Linked DNA regions of Homo sapiens. The protein of the gene in region 1 purifies or fractionates together with the protein of each later gene. This does not show direct contact. Each region holds a gene or a part of one and is shown on either strand. Other genes may lie near its edges.

Evidence for each region.
Region 2: the proteins of PAX2 (region 1) and NFIA purify together in Homo sapiens (co-immunoprecipitation; one large-scale study listed by IntAct). This does not show direct contact.

The regions. Positions count from the first base shown.
Region 1 is NC_000010.11:100,828,013-100,830,444, reverse strand, and holds the end of PAX2 (paired box protein Pax-2), read right to left. Parts: 3' UTR 501-2,432; downstream 1-500. UniProt on the Homo sapiens protein: Transcription factor that may have a role in kidney cell differentiation. Has a critical role in the development of the urogenital tract, the eyes, and the CNS.
Region 2 is NC_000001.11:61,382,887-61,386,560, reverse strand, and holds part of NFIA (nuclear factor 1 A-type), read right to left. Parts: intron 3,325-3,674; coding exon 3,196-3,324; intron 1-3,195.

The DNA.
Region 1 (2,432 bases):
AGGAAACTTGCGGCAAGCGTCTGCGGTCTTCGCGTTTCATTGCAGACTTCGGGGATAAAATTGCTGCTGCGCCCACGCGCAACTGCACTGGATAGGGAACGGAGGGAGGAGATAGGACAGACGACCACCCCTCCACCCACGTGGAGAAGGCCTCAGACTTCGGGTTCTGAGAGCCAGCACCCTAAATCTGGGTGCGGGTGTACTGGTAGGACCACAGAGTTGGCCTAGTATAGGCGCCTAACTAGGAGTTATTCTGAAGTTTCGGAGAGTAAGAACTTCCTGTCCCCAGGGCCGGGGTGCGTGGGGGAGGGTGGCTACTAAAGGGCAGGCTAGTCTCGGCCTTCGCCGTGGTTCAGCTGCCGCCAAGGGGGTCTCGGCAAAGGAGTTGGAGGTGGCAGCGGGAGTGTAGTTGGGAGGATCATTGAAGGGGCTTTTGGGGATCGACCAATGGAGGGGAGGCCCATCTCAGAGACAGGGAGAGACAAACTTGGAGCCATGGGGAGTGACATACAAAATTTTATTCTTTATTTATTATTATTATTTATTTCTTATGTGCACAAAAGAAAAAGAATCAAAACGAACCGACGCACTGAAAGTGGCCGAGGAGACCAGAACCGTCCGGGGACATTTAGCAGGTTAGGCCTGGGCCTGGGTCCGGGGTCTCTGCCCGGCCAGCCCCACAGGACTGGGATGGGCCGGACCTCGGCGCCCTCGCCGCCCTCGCCGCCCCGTTCGGGCCACTGGAGCCTGGCTGGGCGCCGGGTTCCCTTAAACGATTCTCTTTTCTCTTTTTCCTTCTCAAATAAAAAGGGCTCGCAGGGGAGAGAGATCTGGGCGAGGACTCCAAGCCTTTTCGGATTTGTTCAAGGATTTTTATTTATTTTCACTTTATTGACTTTGTTTCTGTTATTTCGAGTCGTCACGATCCACGGGTGAGGAGACATGCAGGGCGCATCGCCACTACCGAAAGAGCAACTACGGGGCGGGACGGGGCGGCCCGGCCTTCGGCCGCCCGGGGCGCGCGGGGCACGCCCGCGAGGGGGCGAGCCCGGGGGCTGGAGCTGCCACCTCGGATCTAGCCTGCGGAGACAGGGCGGCCGGGCCAGGTCTGGGGAGAGAGGCCGAGGAAAGAGCAGAGACAGACAGACAAGAGCGACAGAGACGGAGAGAGACAGAGACAGAGGGGGAGAGAAGCGGAGAGGAGAGAGGGGCAGAGGGAGAGAGGGGCAGGGAGGAAAAAGCGAAAACACGGAATTACAGAGAAAGAGCCAACAAAACAGGCCAGAGGAGTCCACAGGACCATGTTCGTCATTTTGCATAGAGATTTCTTTTCTTTCGTAATTTTTTTTTGTAACATAAAAAATGCCCCCCTCCCCCAGGACGTGCTGTGCTTTAATGGGCGTGTAGCTGTGTCCCCCCCTTCCCCCCCAGCGAGCGGCGACTCTCACAGCACAGACAGCGGGGCGTATCTACAGGCAGGGCCGGCGGGCGACAGGGACTCTACGGGGCCGGGCGGGGCGGGGCGGAGGGGGAGGGGTTATGTACACCGGGTTTCGCCTTCACACGACACACACCGTCTTTCCACAAAGCAGCAGCCTGGTGGGCTTTTGTGTTGTTTTGTTCCTTTTTGCAAAGACCATCATATTAAATAAATGTAGACTTTTTGTGGTTCTGTTCAGTTCCTGCCGGAGGAGGAGGCTGGGAGGGGATGGGAGGAGTGGAGTGGGCAGCCCCCCACTTCCACCCCGCAGCAGCTCAGACGCCAGCTCAGAACCGGTTCTTACCACCGGCAGATTGAGAGTCTGTGTCGGGGGAGGGGGCATCAAGTAACTGCTGGAGGAAGACCCCAGTCCGCAGTCTATGGAAACTGGTCCTGCGGCGGTCCCGGGAGAGCGTCCGATGGGGCTGCGAGTCAGGGAGGAGGATGCAGGGCGTCAAGGGACAGGCGAAGGACTGGCAGGAGGGGAAACTGGGAGGCCAGCAGGTGGAAGAGACGCTGAGGTAGGGGCAAGGCAGGGCTGAGAGCCGGGTCTCGCAGCAGGAGGTGCCGGGCCCTGGGGAACTAGGCAGGCCAGGAGGAGCAGTGAAGAGCCGAGAGTCCGGCTCGATCGGTGCGGGCTGCTGGGCCCCCCGATCCTTGGGTCCCAACCTTGGAAAGACCTGACGCCCCCAAAGCCCGTTCCTAGAGCCGGACCCCCACACCCCCATTCCATCTTCTGGGACAGGGCACACCCGGAAGGCGAGGGCAGTCCGGCTGGCACTGGGGGAAAAGAATTTTTCCCAGGGATTCGGCAGCGGGCTCTTCCTCCTGCAGAAAGTCGTTTTCTTCTTAATCTCCTTGGCCCAGCCCCTCCAGCGAAGCCTCCTGGCGCCCGAGCGTCCGAGGCGGGTGCCCGGGGCTGGGCCGCGCTGCGGTCCGCGCTGATTGTGTG
Region 2 (3,674 bases), on another chromosome or scaffold:
TGGACAGTTATTGCTTACTAACTGGTGCTAGTCTAGTTGAAGCATTCCCGTGATAAATGCTAGGGAAGGCAGCAGAAGCCTCACAACCTAGTGCTAACCAGAGAGCAGTCAATGGCCTCCGTGATCCCTGCCCCATGCCCTGGGGACCTGATAAAGGACATTCTTTTCTTTTCTTCAAGATCCTTTTAAAGTTTGATTCTCTGGATTATCTAATAATTTACTATTTTGGGTTGTGGCAACTTTGCCCAATACAAGGAGTGTCAGAGGTTGAAATCTCCTTTATGCGCACATGTGACATCGATTCCACACTGACTCTTGCAGCTATACTCTTCCTCCTCAATTTTGGCCTCATCTTCCTAAAACACCACGTCTTACTCCCAAATGTGGTATCATTCCAAGCATTAGCTTTCCAACTAGTTCAGAGAGAAATGAAGGAAATTACAGTACCCACAGCAAATAAATAATGAGGCTGAATTCCAACCTTTTAAAAATGTCTTAGCCAGAAAAATGTCTTACGTTAGCCTATCTCAATTCTTATGATTCTTACCACAAAGAGGCAACTGAAGTTTCATCTCAACTACTCCAATTCCCTTCACCAGACCACTAAGCGGGGTGGGACACGGTAAGAACGGGTACCTGAGTAGACTTTCCAGAAAGGAGAGCCGAGGATGCTGGGAGCCATCTTGAATTCTGGTGAAAACAAAGAATCTTTGGTATTCCATAATTCTTACACTAGGCATCTTTCTCTTTTCCTCAAACACAGTTTTATGAATGAATATGAATAGATTGCAACTTGTTATGCTGTGAGCTAAGGAGGTCCACTCTGGTTCAACCCAGCGTGGGTCATTTTAGAAAATGTGCTTAGTCATCTAGCATGAACAAGCTCTCAACCTGTACCCATAGGGAAGTGCCCATGACAGTAATTTCTAGAACTACAGTTTTAAGGCAAGACACACATTAGACACTCTTAATATTTACTGACTAATGATAATATATACAGATTGCATTATGCTCTTCATGGAATCTCCACAAATACTGTTTTATTGTTGTTTCTGTATAAGAATACAAGATTGGGAGGAAATGGTCATTATTAGTATTGTACCCACTATATTGATGAGGACATTAAAAAACCCAGAAGGTGAGTGGGAAGGAAAAGAGGGAGCCTACCCAGCTCTCCTGATTGCTGGCATACTGTTCTTCTCAGTTCTTACTAACTTACTACACCACAAATCTTTCCTTTGCTTAGGATGGCCCTCCATTTATCTAAGCATCTTTTAAGATTTGACTTCAATGTTATTTATACTTTGAAGTCTCTTTTTTTTTTGAGATGGAGTCTTGCTCTGTTGCCCAGGCTGGAGTGCAGTGGCACCATCTTGGCTCACTGCAGCCTCTGCCTCCTGGGTTCAAGTGATTCTCCTGCCTCAGCCTCACAGGTAGCTGGGATTTACAGGCATGTGCCACCACACCTGGCTAATTTTTTTTTGTATTTTTAGTAGAGATGGGGTTTCACCATGTTGGCCAGGCTGATCTTGAATTCCTGAGCTCAAGTGATCTGCCCGCCTTGGCCTCAGAAAGTGCTAGGATTACAGGCGTGAGCCACTGTGCCCGGCCCATCATCTTTTACTTGCTTATTTCCTTGTGTGCCTCTCTTCTGCAGTAGATAACATGCTCTATGAGGACAGGAACCACTGGTCCCAGTGTCTATAGAGGCACTCAGTAAATCCTTGTTTAAAGAGTGAATGAACCTCCACGGTCCCCCCAATACTGAGCTCCTGCAGGAACTTTTACCATTCAGTTAGCATTTAGAATATGTTAACTTGACCCCAAACAGATGAAAAACAACACATGCCTCATCTCCTTCAGGCCATAAATATTCTGACTAAAAGGGCTTCATATCTCTGATCCCCCACTACAGTTTATATGCTCAATGAGTGTTAACTATGAGGATAATATCTTAATACTATTTAATAAGCCTCATTCTGGGACCTTATAATCTAATTCTGATGCAGGTTTTCAAATTATATATCGATAGTAAGCCTCTCTGATTATACCACACATAATACACAAATGAAAGAAGGGATCTTGAGAAAGTTCTACCAATGATCACAAGATGTTTAAAGATGAAACAAGTAAGTTTCATTCCCACAGTGGTCAAAATGCTTACTTTCTTCAATATGACTCCCATGTGTGCACCGGACAGCCCTCTTACCTGCCACATTTCCCTGAGATGCACACAGAGCACATTCATAAAGGGATTCAGATTGGTGGGGCTAACATTGAGATTAATGCAAGAAACATCAGTTTCCCCAGGTATATGTCAAAGCAGACAAGAGATCATAATTTTCTAGGATGTTTTATGAAACCAGCTGGTAGGTCACAGACCTACCTAAAAGAAAATCTGATAAAGGAAAGCAAACATGGCTACAATTATTCATACTTCTACTGTGGGAGTTTCATAAACAAAATAATAAATATTTTTATCTTGCAATAAGATCAAGTTAAGTGATTTGCTGACATTCTCTTGAGGCTTAAGGCTTGTCTTTAATGCGAAATACAAATCATATTTCTCGTGGACACATTTTAATAATAAACTTAAAAGCATATGAGACAAAAATAATGAAAACATTGCAATGAAAACCAGACAAACTATCTACCACTTCAAAAGGAGTGAATGAAGACTGCTCGTCAACACCCTGATGCAAACAACCTCAACACAAAATGCCACATATTGAAATCAGGTTTTATGGAAAGAGAGTCAGCAGGGATGAGAAAAAGCTACTACTTGAAAACAGGTAATTGACCACATGGAAATATACTCACCCAATGCATGCATGTGTGCACGCGCATGTGCGCACACACACACACATTCTGTCTCTCTCTCTCACACACACACACACACAACTTGTAGAACAGATTTGATTTTGGTTCAATTCAAGTTACTTCCCATCTTTCTGCAAAAATCTCACTGGCCAACAAAAAACAGATTTGGTCTCTTTTTGCCTTAGGAAAGGACAAAAAATGTGATGCCAAATCTCTTTGGTCTCTAAAATTCCAAGGCTGCCCCCAAGGGTAAGAAATTGGAACACTCACTGCCTCACGAGTGTTCAGGGGGAGTCCTCATTGTTTCTCATTTTGCTACTTGGGTCCAAAGGCCATGATATAAGCACAACCAAGGGTGCCTGTGGAGCAGCTCACCTCTGGGTCCTGTAATGACAGGTCGGTGATGCTGTGTGAACGCCGTTCCCAGGGAGGAGGTCTGTGAAGGGGAGGGGCTGCTGAAACCAGACTTCTCCGACTTCTTCAGTGTGGTTGGAGATGGCATTCCTGGCAAGAAGGATCAACTGGTAAGTACACTTTAATTCATGGAACAATGATTTGTGCAACCTAAAAGATAACATTTAAAGAATTAAAAACAAACAAAAAGAGAAATCCACCTGTGAATGAAAAAGATGTTGTGAATTGCTTTGCATTTGTCACAGAAACAAAGAGGTGACAGAATAGTCCCCTGATAAGTCGGTCTGTATTTGATTTCAATTTATTCTAATTAATCACAGTCCATTTTTGGGTTATTGGTCTTCAATAATAATACAGGGTTCAACTTTTCCAGTGTTTCCTAAAAGTTGCTGCTTGTGTCTGTGACCTCTGTGACTCCCAAAAAGGAAACCATGTATGCT